Linked DNA regions of Homo sapiens: all the other regions are linked to region 3. The links come from fine-mapping of genetic effects on plasma protein levels. A gene starts in region 3. Each other region holds a variant in brackets. All regions are shown on one strand. Distances are from middle to middle. Region 1 overlaps CLEC1A (C-type lectin domain family 1 member A). Region 2 has its middle 16 kb from the start of OLR1. Region 3 holds the start of CLEC1A (C-type lectin domain family 1 member A). Region 4 overlaps CLEC1A (C-type lectin domain family 1 member A).

The links. PIP is the chance, under the fine-mapping model, that this variant and not a neighbour inherited with it causes the effect. The UK Biobank Pharma Proteomics Project read protein levels with antibody pairs (Olink). The fine-mapping took linkage between variants from a reference panel, not from the people measured, so its PIPs are less certain.
Region 1: its variant is fine-mapped to the plasma level of the CLEC1A protein (UK Biobank, PIP above 0.99). The variant lies in the coding sequence of CLEC1A. If it changes the protein, the assay may bind it differently, which can mimic a change of level.
Region 2: its variant is fine-mapped to the plasma level of the CLEC1A protein (UK Biobank, PIP above 0.99).
Region 4: its variant is fine-mapped to the plasma level of the CLEC1A protein (UK Biobank, PIP above 0.99).

The regions. Positions count from the first base shown.
Region 1 is chr12:10,069,816-10,073,984 of GRCh38, forward strand. It overlaps CLEC1A (C-type lectin domain family 1 member A), which reads right to left. Exons shown (of 6, transcript NM_016511.4): 5 at 3,478-3,596; 6 at 1-1,698. The coding sequence ends at 1,518. Among named protein-coding and RNA genes, the nearest start is that of CLEC1A, 27 kb to the right of the region's middle. The variant T/G (reference allele first, on the strand shown) is at 1,659.
Region 2 is chr12:10,153,923-10,158,091 of GRCh38, forward strand. No RefSeq gene overlaps it. Among named protein-coding and RNA genes, the nearest start is that of OLR1, 16 kb to the right of the region's middle. RefSeq lists an enhancer at 1-11. The variant A/C (reference allele first, on the strand shown) is at 2,114.
Region 3 is chr12:10,096,705-10,100,873 of GRCh38, forward strand. It overlaps CLEC1A (C-type lectin domain family 1 member A), which reads right to left and starts at 2,281. Exons shown (of 6, transcript NM_016511.4): 1 at 2,104-2,281. The coding sequence starts at 2,218.
Region 4 is chr12:10,076,130-10,080,298 of GRCh38, forward strand. All of the region lies in intron 3 of CLEC1A (C-type lectin domain family 1 member A), which reads right to left. Among named protein-coding and RNA genes, the nearest start is that of CLEC1A, 21 kb to the right of the region's middle. The variant C/T (reference allele first, on the strand shown) is at 1,732.

The DNA.
Region 1 (4,169 bases), 27 kb before region 3:
AGAATCCGCAATAGTCTTTGCTAAGTGACAATCTAACAAAATGAAGTTTATGAAAATGAGCACCAATGTGTTCTTTCTATCATATGATTGCTACTATACGTCATTTTACCATGAGATAGATGTTTATGAAAAACAAAACTGAAGCACCTCAGTTTCCACTGTTGAAAAACAAAGATTTATAATGTTATCTTTTCTAGCATAAAACCCTCAAAATTGATTTATCAGTAAACCAATAAACTTGGTGGCTGTGATGGTGTCATTCCCAATGATCCCTGTTATATTTGTGCATGGAGTCGTCTCAAGAAAGAAGTGCCTCACAAAGGAGCAGCTACAAAGATGTCACTGTCTCTGTTCATTTCCCATGACCTGACTGGAAATCATGTGCACTAATGCAACTCAGCTTCCTCATCAACCATGTGTTGATGCCATAAGCTCACCTCAAAAGATTTCATTTTAGGAAAACGTTAAAACTGTTTTCTTGAAGCCAACACGTATTTCAAAGACATCTTATTTTCTCCAGATAATCATGTAATCAGTACTCTTGTAAATTCCCCAAAAACTTTCAGTAAGGCACAATCAAAATAATGACCGCTATCATATTTTGAAAAGCATTTCCATGCTGAATTTTCCCACCAACCATAAGTCCATTGTAAAATCACACACACTTCACAGTATTTACATTTATTATTATTAAATCTTCAGTACCTGAAAGGTATAAATATGGGTCAATGGAAGAAAATAGGAACTGAAACTATTACAGGTGCAGATGAAGAGGCTCACTTTTTTCTGGTCTTTAATCTCTCTGAAGGGAATATCGGGGACGGTAGTTCTGATATGAAACGGAGATGGGGATATATTTCTTTCCTGGGAGAAATTCCTATGGAGGGGAGACAATTATCAGAGTCTTAATGGACACAGGAAGGAATGCTTATAAGGCATTGAGATTTGAGATTCTCATATCAAGTGACATCCCTGTTGGGAAACGGCATGGACAAGGCAGATGGGGTCTTTACTGATGGATTGGGAAGGGACTAGTATGAACTGAAACAAACAAAAAGAATTCCTTGTGTATTTGCTGGTACAATCTGGGAAGTGACTGCCAATTTCTGATGGACTACTTGACTGTCAGAGAAAAGGATGTTACCTCAATGTATTTCCTCTACTTCAAAAAGTTTCTTATTCCACCAAGTGTAAGGAAGACATGAAAACAGGGAGGTGATATTAGACATTGAGAAGAAAGAGAGCTAAAAGTTATCTCTAAGCCAAGAAGGCAGATGACATTATGGGTTTCTGAGGTTGGTTGGTGGCATGTAAATAAGACTTCTTGTGACTGTTAAATACGTGCATAAACCCAAGCTCAGAAATGCTGGTGATCCTGAACAGGAAACACGAGAACCCATTTTGTACTAGTCAGAGAGATAGTCTTTCCTGATTATGTTCCATTTCCCAATGTCTCAACTAGCCCTTGCTTTGGCACCGCCTGGCTCACTCTGCTATTTGTAGTTGCAGAGGGCGAATCAGTCACCTTCGCCTAATGTTTCAGGGGGGACATGGAGGCTCTCTGGCTTCACCATTCCTGCCCTTCTCTCACAGACACAACGCTTCAATTCTTTGCAGTCCTTTGAGAAGATCATCCCATTAAGGATGGCCACACAGTC[T/G]CTGCTTCTTGGGCTGGTGACATCTATTATAATATGGAACCTTAAGAAAGGAAGAAAAAGTAAATTCAATCACGGTTTATTTCTAAAATAAAATATTAAATACCCATTCTTTCTAGAGTTATAAAATTATAGTCTAGATACCAGAATAAGTTTACCGGGAAACTGGGGTCATGTGCCTCTTTCTCTTCAGCCCCTAAGTTTCCATACTCATTCTTAGAAACAGCAGGTCACCCCAAACAGCAAAAACCATTTCTAACTAAAGCGAAGCTACGTGTTCTCCTCCAAATTTATATAGTGTTTCTGCCACTTAAAAAGTTCTCTACCTTCTCTGTAACTCAGTTTACTTAACTGTAAAATACAAATGATTACATCAAATATATCCTGTCTCCTGGGAGAATAATGATATATTGTATATAGGGAAGAATGGTGTCTGTTCAAATATGGCTTTAAATGTGATATATTTTGATAGAGAAATTACAATTTCCTCTTTCAAAGGATACTGATGTGGTTTGGATGTGTGTTCTTTCCAAATCTTAGTTGAAATGTTATCCCCAGTGTTGGAGATGGGGCCTGGTGGGAGGTGTTCGGGTCATCGGGGTGGATCCCTCATGAATGGCTTGGTGCCCTCTTCTTGGTGATGAGTGAGTTCTCACTCAGTTAGTTGATGCAAGATCTGGTGGCTTAAAAGGGCCTGGAACCTCCCCCCAGCCCCTTCTCTTTTGTGTTCTCTCTTGCCATTGGACATGCCAGCTCTTGCTTCGCCTTCTGCCATGAGTAAAGCTCCCTGAAGCCTCCTCAGAAGCCAAGCAGATGCTTGTACAGCCTGCAGGATTGTGAGCCAATTAAACCTCCTTTCTTTATAAGCTATCCAACCTCAGGCATTCATTTATGCTGATGCAAAAATGGACTAACACAGATACCATATGTACTCCTGTCTAAATGCTCACAGCATATGTACGACTAGTGTTTTATATTACCCCTTACATTTTCAGCAAATCTTTTCTCAGAGATTGTGTTTTTTAAAAGATGTGCTCCCTATTTTGCTGCACAGAAAGCCAAGAACTCTTATGCTATCTCTGGGTACTGACAAGTTGTGTGACTTTAGGCAACCACCATTACAGCCTGGACTCCTGGGCTTCAATTTACTCACTCAGGGAAAGATCTCTCTCTCTCTCTCTCTCTCTCTCTGTCTCTCCCTTCTCTCATCTGCAGTATGTCCCAGACACAAACTTCTGAAAGCAGCAAGAGAACTACCCTGATATTTTACTAATGCTATGTATCTGTCTCCCTCACTGGCTTATAAGCAGTTCAAAAGCAGGCACTGGCCGGGTGCGGTGGCTCATGCTTGTAATCTCAGCACTTTGGGAGGCCAAGATGGGCAAATCACTTGAGTCCAGGAGTTCTAAACAAGACTGGGCAACACATCATAATCCTGTCTTTCCAAAAAAGACAAAAAATTAGCTGCATGTAGTGGTGCACGCCTGTAGTCCGAGCTACTCAGAAGGCTGAGGTGAGAGGAGAGCTTGAGCCTGGGAGGCAGAGGTTTCAGTGAGCAGAGCTTGCACCACTGCACTCCAGCCCATGCAACAGAACAAGACCCTATCTCAAAAAACAATCAAACGAACAAACACACACACACACACAAACAAAATGAGGATGCACTATTGTTCAAATATCTTCAGGCATCCTCCTGCAAACACAGTATCCAGTACAAAGCAGAAGTTTGATTAATACTTGATGGACCAAATTCTTGAGCTCTATCACTCAAGCAAAATATCTTTGTTAAATGCCTTTCCCATAAAATATCCTGAAGGCTTACAGTTCAGAAGTGAAAGGGGTTCCATCCATCCACAGCCAGGCCTTGCCACTGTCAGGGCGCAAAAGCCCTGTCCAATAAGAGTAGAAAAACTCAGAGTAGCTCTGAGACGCGGCAAATTCCTGTGAAAAGCACATAAGAAAAGCTTTAGCTTTGGTGGCATGATTACTCACATGTACAGACATGCATGGGCCAGCCAGCACTTTTCTCAAAGCACACACAAGTCCTGCTTCACATTGATGCTCATATGCTTAAGAGAAAAAGCATCTATGCTGAGGCCAGTCAGAAATTTGTCCAGGTTTAATAACTTATTTTGTCTTAGTAAATATGGAACACATGTCGATATTCTGAAAGCGGAAATCACATCAACCAAGATTTGTTCCTGACCCATGGCTTTTAAGGCACAGAATTAAACATTAATGTTGACATAAAAATATGAGGGAAAGACTAACAAAGAGATGCAGAATGATTCTGGGACATGGAAGAATATGGAGGGAAAAGTGCAGGAATGAGGTAGTAACCGTTATAAATACCTGGGAAAGGAAGAAAAAAAGTAAAAGAAAAATTTGCAAGGATGATTTATGTCTTAGACTAGGAAGAGAAGAAAGAAATTTTTAAATTTCTATCTATAAATATTTATGTGCACACATGTGTATAGTCCTATACATGGTAATCCTTTTCCCAATATCCATATT
Region 2 (4,169 bases), 57 kb after region 3:
GGCCAGGCAGAGGACTTGAGAGGGGCTGGAGGGCAGGAGGTCCTGCGGAACAGAAGTGCCCCACTCCGAAGGGAAAGTCGACCCTGCTGTTCTCTTTGCGCGGCAGTCAGTGGGGTTAGAGTTATTCGGAAGAGGACGGAGAGCCTTGGGGGATGGGTGCGCATGGCCATGTTCCACTGGAACTGCCCCCAACGCAAAACAAACAAACAAACAACAACAACAACAAAAACCGGGCTCTATGCAGGCTGGAGTTCTGCCTCTGCCTGCTTGTAGGGCATATCCCCATGCCAGTTCGAATGTTTATGGGGAGTGTAGGATCTCTTGTGGCTGGAATCCTAGAGGTCCACAGCAAGAGTGGGCTGCCTTGCCAAGGGTTGTTCAGGGCCAGGAACTGGCACTGGTGTTCCAGAACCTGAAAGGGTTCCCGGTCTCCCTTTCTGTCAGCGGGAGTGGTGCTTCCTGTCTGCGTCTATTTGGCCATCTTGTCTCTGTTGACCAAATAGCTTTTTTGAGAAGAAAAATGAAATTGATAAATCTCTAGCTAAGCCGATTAGTTTTAAAAAAAAAAGATACAATTAACACTGTCAGGAAGGAAGTGGCAATGCTAAAGATTCTACAGATATTCAAATAATTTTTAAAAATGGTATGCCAATAAATTAAACAACTTAGATGAAGCTCATAAATTCCTTGAAAGTAACCACCAAAGCTCATTGAAGAAGGAATCCTTTGAACAGCTCAACATCTAAAAAAAACTGAATCTGGCCGGGTGCGGTGGCTCACGCCTGTAATCCCAGCACTTTGGGAGGCTGAGGCGGGCGGATCACAAGGTCAGGAGTTCGAGACCAGCCTGGCCAGCATGGTGAAACCCCGCCCCTACTAAAATACAAAAATTAGAGGGACATGGTGGCTCGCGCCTGTAATCCCAGCTACTTGGGGGCTGAGGCAGGAAAATCGCTTGAACCCGGGAGGCGGAGGTCGCAGTGAGCCGAGATGGTGCCACTGCACTGCAGCCTGGGCGACAAAGCAAGTCTCCGTCTCAAAAAAAAGAAAAAAAAGAAACTGAATCTGTAGTTGAAAACCTTACTACAAAGAAAACCCTATGCCCAGATGACTTCAAGGGTAAATTGTATCAAACATTTAATGAAGAAATAGTACTAATTCTAAACCAAATCTTCCAGAAAAATTGACATTGAGAAATATTTATCTGATATTCAAATAAGGCAAAGTCATAAAGAGAAAAGAAAACTATGTTTAAAAATACTGGCCATGGCCAAGCACGGTGGCTCACACCTGTAATCCCAGCACTTTGGGGGCCTAGGCGGGCAGATCACCTGAGGTCAGGAGTTCGAGACCACCCTGGCCAACATGGTGGAACCCTATCTCTACTAAAAATGCAAAAATTTGCTGAGTATGGTGGGGGGTGCCTGTAATCCCAGCTACTCAGGAGGCCAAGGCAGGAGAATCGCTTGAACCCGGGAGACAGAGGTTGCAGTGAGCCAAGATCGCGCCACTGCACTCCAGCCTGGGCGACAGAGCAAAACTCCACCTCAAAAAAAAAAAAAAAAGTACTGGCCAGGCATGGTGGGTCACACCTGTAATCCCAACACTTTGAGAGGCCGAGGCAGGAGGATCACTTGAACCTGGGACTTCAAGGCCAGCCAGGGCAACATAAGAAGAGCCTGTCTCTTTCTCTCAAATTAAAATAATTAGCTGGGGATGATGGTGCATGCCTGTGGTCACCGTTGTCCCAGCTACTTTGGAGGCTGAGGCAGGAGGATCACTTCAGCCTGGGAGGTCAAAGCTTCAGTGACCTGTGGTCGTGCCACTGCAGTCCAGCCTGGGCAACAGAGTAAGACTCTACCTCTAAAAAACCAGAACAAAATGAACAGAAACAAAAAACCCATAAATATAGTTGCAAACATTCTAAGCCAAATTTTAACAGAAATAACCCATAATATAATACATATAACAGATCTAATCCATTAATATAATGCAATCCTAAATTGTTTTAACCTTATATAATTAATGAGTGTAATTCATGTTAAAAGACTAGAAATTTTTAACCTAAAAAAAAACAAAGAAAATACTAGATATTTTTAAAATAAAAATGTAT[A/C]TATAATCATCTCAATAGATGTAGAAAAATATTAGACAAAATTAACACCTATTCCTGATCAGTCCTCTAAGAATGCAAGGAACAAAAGGGAACTTCCTAAAACTGATTAAGGACGTCTATGAAACATCTACAGTTTACACCATACTTAGTGGTGCAACACTGAATGATCTCTTCTCAAGATCAATTTCAAAATAAGGATATTGTTCTCACTACTTTTATTTCTCATTGAACGGGAGGTTCAGGCAAGGAAAAGAATAAAAGCATTGGAAAGGAAAAGATAGAAGTGCTTCCGCTGGCACACAGAATGATTATTTGTGTAGAAAATCTGATGACATCTACAAAAAAAGTTACTAGAAGAAACAAATAAGTTTATCAAGGTTTCAGAATATAAGGTGAATATTTAAAAGTCTATTATATTTCTCCATACTAGCAATAAACAGTTGGAAATTAAAATTATCAATGATAATTCCCATGTACAGTAGCGTCGAAACTATGAAGTATATATGGTAAGCTAACAAAATATGTAAAAATATCTGTAAGAGAAAACTGCAAAACATTGCTCAGAGAAATTTTAAAATACCTAAATAAATGCAGAGACATACTTTATTCAAGAGTCAGAAAAATCAATATTTTTAAGGTTTCAATTCTGCCCAAATCGATTTGTAGATTCAATGTAATCACAATCAGAATTCCAAAAGAGTTTTTGTAGAAATTAGTGAGCCAATTCAAAAATCAATATGGAAAATATAGTGACATAGCTCAGCCAATGTAACTTTGCAAAAGAAAAATAAATTTGAAGGACTGTCACTGCATGATTTTAAGATTTATTATAAAACTACAGTATTCAAAATAATGTGGTGGTGGTGTATAAATACGCAAATACAAAAATACAACAATCAGTGGAATAAAATAGAGAGTTTAGAAATAATCCCATGAATATACAGACAACTGATTGGTGATAAAGGTGCAAAAGCAATTTAGTAAAGAAAAATAGTCTTTTCGACAAATTTACATTTGTCGAATTAATCCCAAATAAATCATAGACCTCAGTATAAAACCTGAAGCTATAAAATGTCTAGAAAAAAATAAAGGAGAAAATTTTTGTGACCTTGAGTTAGTCAATGAGTTCTTACAAACCACAGCAGAATAATAAAAATGGACTTCATTAAAATAAAAAACTTCTGCTTTATGAGTATATTGTTCAAAGAATGAAAAGACAGGCTGGGCGGTGGCTCACACCTGTAATCCTAGTACTTCGGGAGGCCAAGGCAGGCAGATCACTTGAGGTCAGGAGTTCAAAACCAGCCTGGCCAACATGGTGAAACCCCATCTCTACTAAAAATACAAAAACTTAGCCAGGCATGGTGGTGGGCACCTGTAATCCCAGCTACTTGGGAGGCTGAGGCAGGAGAATCACTTGAACCTGGGAGGCGGAAGTTGCAGTAAGCTGGGATTGCACTACTCCAGCCTGGGCAACAGAGTGAGACTCCCTCTCAAAAAAAAAAAAAAAAAGACAAGACAAGAAAAACATTTCAAGATGCATATCTGATAAAAGGTTTTTATCCCAAATATATAAAGTTCTCAAACTCAACAGTAAGAAAAATAAACCAAGTAAAAATTCTCAAAAGATTTATACAGTTACTTTATCAAAGTTACCTAATACAGATGGTAAATAAGCTTATAAAAATTTGCCTGGGGCGGTGGCTCACGCCTGTAATCCCAGCACTTTCAGAAGCTGAGGTGGGTGGATCACCTGAGGTCAGGAGTCTGAGAACAGTCTGGCCGACATGGTGAAACCCCGTCTCTGCTAAAAATACAAAAATTAGCTGGAAGTGGTAGCGGGCGCCGGTAATCCCAGCTACTTGGGAGGCTGAGGCAGGAGAATTGCTTGAACCCAGGAGGCGGAGGTTGCAGTGAGCTGAGATTGTGCCACTGAACTCCAGCCTGAGCAACAAGAGCGAAACTCTGTCTCAAAAACAAACCAACAAACAGAAATTTGTAGGATACACAGATTAAAACTATGAGGATATACCATTCGATATCTACTAGAATCATT
Region 3 (4,169 bases):
ATAGTTCTCTAAAAATACAAAGCTACTGAAAACCTTCATGACTTTCCCTTCATACGTCTCTCTGTCTATAGTGTCCCCAGCCTCTCAAACACCCTCACTCCCGATTCCTTATTATGTGGAAGATGTTAAAATTAACTCAACTCCACAGTTGCTCCTTCTGTTAAGCCTTTCCTGAACTCCTCTACTTAATTAGGTAAAAATTAAGCCGAGAGCTTGGTTAAGCTCTCGGCTGTACTGTACATGCTTCTGCCATAACACCTTATTATACTTACTCCTTAGTTGAGAATTGTATTAGACTTTCAATTTCCTTATGAACAGGGACCATATCACATTGGACATTATATCCTCAGTACTAGGATAACATGACCCCAAACATAAGTTTGTGAAAAATGTATGAGGTTGTTGTTTTTCATTTTCACTATCTTAATTGTTTGGCATTTTTACTATCTTAATTGTTTGGCATTTTTAAACACAAACATAGTTGTTACGTCAATTGTTATTGACAAAAGTCTAGAAATTAAATGAATGTGTGTGTGATTTATTTTTATTAATTCTAAAAAATAAAAGTTGCCAGCTCTTAATGGTATCACATCATTATGTTGAATCTGAATCCTCCACATTGCCGAAAATTTCTGAGTGATTTCTGCTGTTATTTTTATCAGCGAAGGTATATCAGATATGTTTATCTAAGAAATAATTATACTTCTATGATGGTATTCCCCTAAATGTTTGTATTACCATAAAAAGATGAAAACAAGATCTCATATATGTTGCCTAAGATAACTATTTCCAGATGATTTCTTCCAAGACAATTCTTTGTAATCTCCACTTCTACTGTTTCAATATCCATTTCTTACAAAGAAGCTCCCAGATGTTGCAGCTAGTGTTTTATCTTGCTCCACCTCCCTCTCCACCCTTCAACCTCAGCAGAACTTATTTGTACATGCTGTTCTTAATTATGCTGATCTCTAGTCCTTGACAGAGTTCCTGGCTCCAGTCAAAGGTGGAAAATGAAGTTATATACAAGCTACTCAAAACCACAGCCGTAAAAATGGACTCTTCGTAAGTTTTTTTGGAGGAAAACGCTTTGTATCCTATTACACATATCCTGTGGCTACAAAAGCTGACATCCCTACTTTTGTCACTTAGCTTCATTTCAAAGAGGTTGGAAATCCCCAATGTCCCTTAACAGCTTACTGGGTAGTTTAGTTAAAAAAAAAAAAAGCCATATTAGTAGGTTTCAGGTGGAGGGTCATTTAATAAATAGAAATAAATAGAAAGTGAATGGAGGGTTTAGTAGGAGAAAGGAAGGAAAACTAAAAGTTATTTGATAAAGAAATAAGGAACAGGATAGTTTTTTTTTTTTAAAGGTATATCCAGATTTACAAAGGTGAAGAAAACAATGATATAATCAGAAGGGAAAGGGCATATTAAAACACAGGCACTGAATGAATGTTAAAATGTGGGATTCCTTTCAACATTCCATTTCTTAAGAACCTAAAGTGTTCCTTTCAGCAATTTTGTGTCAGTCTATATCAGATCAGACAGACATTCAAATATTTTACATAATTTATCATTCTCAGTACTCACAACCACCTTGTAAAGGAAGTTTTATTACTTCTATTTAATATTAAGTCAAGTTAATATGAATTAATATACTTAAAGTATTTAAAACACTGCCAGCACATAATGAGCCCTTTATACATGTTTGTGGCCGTTAATATTTTATAAATAAAGAATATGATGCTACCAGGATACTTAAACAACTCATCCAAAGTTACACAGAAGGAAAGTGGCATACCTGGTTTAGGACCTAGAACCTAGTCCTGTGTATATTACCATGTGAGTCCTTTTCACTAGAACTGAAGTCATATTTTAGCTTTAGATTGGCTGAGTGGCCCAGGAAATAAAATCCTTCTCTAAGTGTGGGAATTATGGAACTGAATATAACTGAAAAAAAAAAATCACTACTATGTCACAGGGCGAGTAATTGGAAATAAAATTATAAGATGCAAGCTAAATATCTCCATTTCTAGGAGGGATAGATCATCTCACACATTTCACAAGGACTGTGGTCTATTTGGACTCCAGGAGACAGGGTACCTGTGCGCCGGGGCTCTGGATGCCGAGTTGTGGCAGAGCCTTGAGAATGCAGGCTCATGGTGGTGTCCCCATCATCATCCAGCATGTCCCTCGTGCTGCTGTACTTGGCCTGCATCTGGATTCCTACAGCGGTGAGAGTGAAATGTGGTCGGATTGCCCTGGGCCGCCGGGCTACTGTGAGCTAGTTCAGGAAGCAAGGCACTAAAAGGCATTCCTAATGTTCTTTCCCAGCGAGGGGCAGGGAAAGTCTCTGACTGCAATTCCTGACTGGACAGGCCCAGCCCCTCTCCTGTGAGCTTGTACTCTGAATGCCAAATCAGTCAGGCTGAGGGGAAATAGCATGTGTTTTCTGTTTAGGCCGTCTCAGTCTAAACAGTTGTCAAAAAGTTGGCCTTTCTCAGGTCTTTTTTGTTTACCTGTTTGCATTTCTCATGTAACTTCACTGTAAAGAAGGCAAGAACTTACAATAGCACGGTGTAGCACTGTGGTTCCTTCAGAGTCTGCAGAATAATAATAACTTGGAAGGACACACATCCCTGTTTCTTACCCATCCTTTAGGGAGTCACTTAGTTTAACCTCTCTGTGTCTTTGTGAAAAGAGAAGAGATTATAGGACCTAGCCCCTTCCTTTCTCCAAGAACAGAGTAGTGGTCTTTCTTATAGTATCTGAACTTGATTCAACATTTTATAGCACATTTGGTACATTATGATCACGAGGAATTATACAATTTACTGGAAGTAAAAACTTTTAAAACTATTACTAACCACCATGTGGTTTGGGGAAGCCAGTTCATTTGTGCCTAAATCTCCTAAACTGAGAAGAAAATGTTTTAGGTAATGTGAAAAAATTCTTCCTGAATCAGTACATTAGAATTATATTCCCATCTTAGTCTGTTTGTGCTGACCTACAACAGGATACCTGAGACCAGATAAATTATAAGCAATAGAAATGTATTTCTCAGCATTCCAGAAGGTGGGAAATCTAAGATCAAGGCACTGGCAGGTTTGGATGTCAGGTGAGAGCTGCACTCTCTGTAGAGGAGGAAGGGTATTCTCACGTGGCAGAAAGCAGAAGGTCAAGCCAGCCAAATGCTACATGTAGCGTCTTTTATAAAGGCCTTAATACCATCCTCAAGAGAGAAGACTTCAAGGACTAATCATCTCTTAAAGGCCCCACCTCTCTCAATACTACCACACTGGCAACACCTGAATTCTGCAGGAAACACATTCAAACCATAACAAGACAGGTATCAGTAACAACCTTGTGCCTTTGGGAGGACAATTAACAATTTGCATCTACATTTCCTAAACTGAAAGACAAGAAGATTGTTTTAGATAATGTCTAAAAGTTCTTCCTGAATCTGTACAATAGACTTATATTACTCTACCAAAACTTTTCCAGATGTTAGGTGATAGGTGGGCAAAATCAAGCATGCTAAATATAAAGGAGTGTCAGAATGCTCCAGTTGGGGTAGCCAGACCATATAAAAGATCTATGAGGAAGTGCACATTGTGGATTCACATGTGTTTCAAGCTGTTTGTTGTTCATCAAATTATTCTAAATTTTTTAAAAATTGGAATTTTTTTTTTTTTAGATGGCAGATTGGAGGCAGTGTTAGCATGACTCTACCACTTGGAAGGACAAAATAGTGAGTAAAAAATTCTCACTGTGGGCCAGCCATGGTGGTCACGCCTTTAATCCCAGCACTTTGGGAGGCTGAGGTGGGTGGATCACCTGAGGTCAGGAGTTCGAGACCAGCCTGACCAACATGGCAAAACCCCGTTTCTACTGAAAATATGAAAATTAGCCGGGCGTGGTGGCGGGTGCCTATAATACCAGCTACTGGGGAGGCTGAGGTAGGAGAATCACTTGAATCCGGGAGGCGGAGGTTGCAGTGAGCCAAGATCACACCACTGCACTCCAGCCTGGGCAACAGAGCGAGACTCCATCTGAAAAAAAAAAAAAAAAAAAAAAACCTTCTCACTGTGAACTCTTTTCCCAAGAAGCAACACAGGAACTGAACAGGAAAACTGAAAGAATCCACAGACTCTTTGAAAGAAGCAGCA
Region 4 (4,169 bases), 21 kb before region 3:
CAAGCCTGAAGTTAGAATGCTGAATCTCCATGTGTCACAAATTAAATTGGGCATCCAGGCCAGAGAAGTATGGGTAGTGATCGCAAATATAGGTGCCAAGCCCTGAGAGCTATAGTTTTAACCCTATGTGGATACATGACCTTGGGTCATTTAGAGTTAGGAACCTAATCCAGTCTCTTGTGGGTCTGTAGTGGGATGAGAACCCAAGTCATATCTATAACAATTTCTTTATTTTAAAAGCGATCTAGTTAACATGTTAAAATCTCAGTGGCTAATACACAGGTAGGTGTTATATTATTGTTTATATCTTCTTGTAAATTTGAAATATTTCATGAAGTAAAACAAAATATAAATAAATAAATAAATAACTTAGAAGGATATCTTTGTCATGTTATGAAAAACTTGCTGTGGAGCTCAATAGCTTTTGCACTCTCTCAGACAGGTCGGCTTGCTTCAGAATTCTACCAGGAGAAATGTAACAACCTGGAGAGACTCAAGCAAAAATGCAGGGAGCCTCAGACGTTCTAAAACACAGAACAAGAATGGGAATGATGCTTACCTAAAAGGATTATTGTAAAGAGTAAATACGTAAAAAACAGAGTCCAGTTTGTGCAGAGACTTATGCATAAAAAGCATTTAATAAAGGTCCGTTTCAACTATGGTCCCTGTTGTTGTGAGAACTTAGATGGGTGATATATGCTTGGAGTGCTGTGCTGAAAAAGATTATGAAGCAGCAACTGGACTCAGCAAGGAGAATCTTGGTTCATTCTGCTCTGGATTCAATAAATAAAAACTATGTAACTGCAATTTTGGTACAGTGTATTAATACCTCATTCCAGTCTCACATACAATGTTTTCTTAAATACCTTCAGTCTTCAGATATGATAAGTGACCCTCTATGTGCTCTATGTAAAAACAAGTCTCCTACTTGTAGGGGAATTAATAGAGAAATTTTCAATGAATGTTTAGGAGGAAGCAAGGGACAATTAGATCAAAAGGTGAGAGACTAAAGGACTGAGAGCCTTATGTGAAATAGGTAGTGATACTATGTAACTAAAGAGACAGAGATAGAGAAACTTCTTTACTTTCTTAACTTCAACTACCTAATATTTGATATACTATTACTTAAACCATTGGAGGAGGAAAATAGAATACAGATTAGAAGAAATTCATTTCTCTCTATATACATATAGATATAGGTACAGACATAGATATAGATAGATATACAGATACATATACCCTCCATTCCAGCCTAGACAACAGAGTGAGACCCTGTTTTCCCCACCTCTCTGCTCCCCCCAAAAATATATATTTTTAAAGGAGAAAAATGCATATTTTTGGCCGGAAAAACGGGTGGACTGAAAATGAACTGTTCTCAAATGTTTTGTCCATGGCATATACACCTAGGAAAAATAAAATACTAATTTCTAAACGGAACATGTACACTTTCTATGAACTCTCTTTACCTATAAATTACCATTTTTATATTATATAGTGCAATAAATGTTTATAGATATTTAGGATCAATAAACAATAATGTTCATATTAGCAAGGCCAATAACCCCAGGACGGGCATTCCATTTCATAAATACATGAAAATATGTCATCCAAAGAAAAGGCTAATCGTCTTTTTTTTTCTTATAGTCCTTTCTCTCTCCATTTCTCCTTTATTTTTGCTGTGTTTTGGGCAAAAGGAATGTAAGTCTGTGTATGTGTCTGGCCCAGAATTTT[C/T]CCTCATATATCTAACTCCCCAAACAGCATTCCTGGTTTCTAATCTTCCCCTTGTAGCCAGAGAATTCTTCTTCCTTTCACTCGACCACATCTCTATGCTTCTAGTTGTTTTGACCCCAAATTCTGGAGCTGTTTTTGAATCTTTCATTTCTCACACATCAATTTATATCCCATCATGCCATCATTTCCACAAACAATATCCTAGTTAGAAGAACCATCATATTTCTCCTAGATTTTAGTAACAGCCATCTCTTATCTGATTTCTCTGTTGCTATTCTTTCCTCTTCCAGTCTAATTTTAACAGAATGTAGATTAAGCCTTTAAAAACTTATGCCAGATCATGTATTTCCTCTGCTTAAAACCCCATAATTAATCCTCATCTGCTCAAAATAGTAGCCAAATCTCTCACAAAGGCACCTAATGCTGTACATTATCTCTACCTAGCCTCCTGTTAGTCTTCCACTCCAACCGCATGAGCTCCTCATTATTCCTGGAATATGCAGATACATTCATGTTTTAAGGCTCTTTTGTTTCCTGTTTTAACTTAAAGCTTATTATTTCTCTATATTACATGGCTAACTCCCTCAACTTTTCAAGTCTTTGCTACCATATAATCATCTTAATTCAGGATTTACGACAGCTCTATTTAAAGTAGCAACAGACTACCCTGGAATTCCTTATCCCTCTTGCCTTGTTTACCTTCATTTCTCATAGGATTGATTAATCTCTCATACATTGTATTTAGGTTGGCCGATCATTACTGTATACCTGGGACCTAGAGTTTCCCAGAATGTGGGACTTTTAGTACTAAAATAAGGAACGTTGGGGGCCAACTTGGAAATGCTGGTTGATATAGTTTGAACATTTGTCCCCTCCAAATCTCATATTGGAATTTGATCCTCAGTGCTGGAGGTGGGGCCTAATGGGAAGTGTCTCGGTCAGGGAAGCAGATCCCTTATGAACAGCTTGGTGAGTTCTCGCTCTATGAGTCCCAGGAGAACTGAGTGTTAAAAAGAGCCTGGCATGTCTCTCCCCAATCTCTTGCCTCCTGGACTCTTGTCATATTACCTGCTGCACTTTCCCCCATGTGTGGAAGCTGCCTGAGGCTCTCAGAAGAAGCAGATGCTGGCACCATGTTTCTTGTATAGCCTGCAGAATCATTAACCAAATAAAACTCTTTTCTGTATAAATTACCCAGGCTCAGGTACTCCTTTATAGCAACACAAACAGACAAAGACATTAGTCATCTTATGTTTTTCAATATACTTACTTCTACTACCCCACTAGAGTAAGTGGTCCATGAGAGTAGACATCCTGTGTGTTTTGTCAGATATGCATCAGTAGGCATTCAGTAAATACTCCAACCACACTGGTAGCAGTACGAACTAAATGCATAAATATCACTTCAGTGGGTGGATGGATGGATGGATAATGGGTAAGATGAGGGTAAGAAATAAAAAGTAGCAGATTAAAACTGAGAACTGACATCTAACCAAAAATATGTAAGAATTTTTTATGAGAAGCAGCATTAATATATTTGCATTTAGATTTTATATTTAAATTAAATGTAACTTATTTGCATAGCTTCTCTTTTTGTTTGTTTTTATATACCTAAATAAAAATTTGAAAGACCATTTGTGTTAGGAAAATCTCGGTTACCTTAAAAAAAAATTTTTTTTAGCCAGGTGCAATGGCTCATGCCTGTAATCCCAGCAGTTGGGAGGCTGAGGCGGGCAGATCACTTGAGGCCAGAGTTCAAGACCAGCCTGGGCAACATGGAAAAACCCCGTCTCTACTTAAAATATACAAAAATTAGCCAGATGTGGTGGTGCATGCCTGTAATCCCAGCTACCCAAGAGGAGATACGAGAATCACTTGAACCCAGGAGATGGAGACCGCAGGGAGCCGAGATCATGCCACTGCACTCCAGTCTAGGTGACAGAGCGAGACTCTGTCTTAAAAAAAAAAATTAAAAATAAAAGTAAAAATAAAAATAAAAATAATTTTTGAGATAGTATCTTACTATATTGCCTGGGCTGGTCTTGATCTCCTCAGCTCAATCTTCTAGCCTCAGCCTGTCAAGTAGTGGATTATCTTTTTGAAGATATGGCAACCAACAAAGGAAAGTATGCACACTGGGCTTTGTTAGAAAAATTTGTAAATAAATGCTGGGCACGGTAGTTTACGCTTATAATCCTAGCACTTTGGGAGGCTGGGGCAGGGGGAACACCTGAGGTTGGGAGTTCAAGACCAGCCTGCCCAACACAGTGAAAACCCATCTCTACTAAAAATACAAGAAAAAATTAGCTGGGTGCAGTGGTGCACACCTGTAGTCCCAGCTACTCAGGAGGCTGAGGCAGGAGAATTGCTTAAACCTGGGAGGAGGAAGTTGCAGCAAGCCGAGATCGTGTCACTGCCTTCCAGCCTAGGCAACAGAG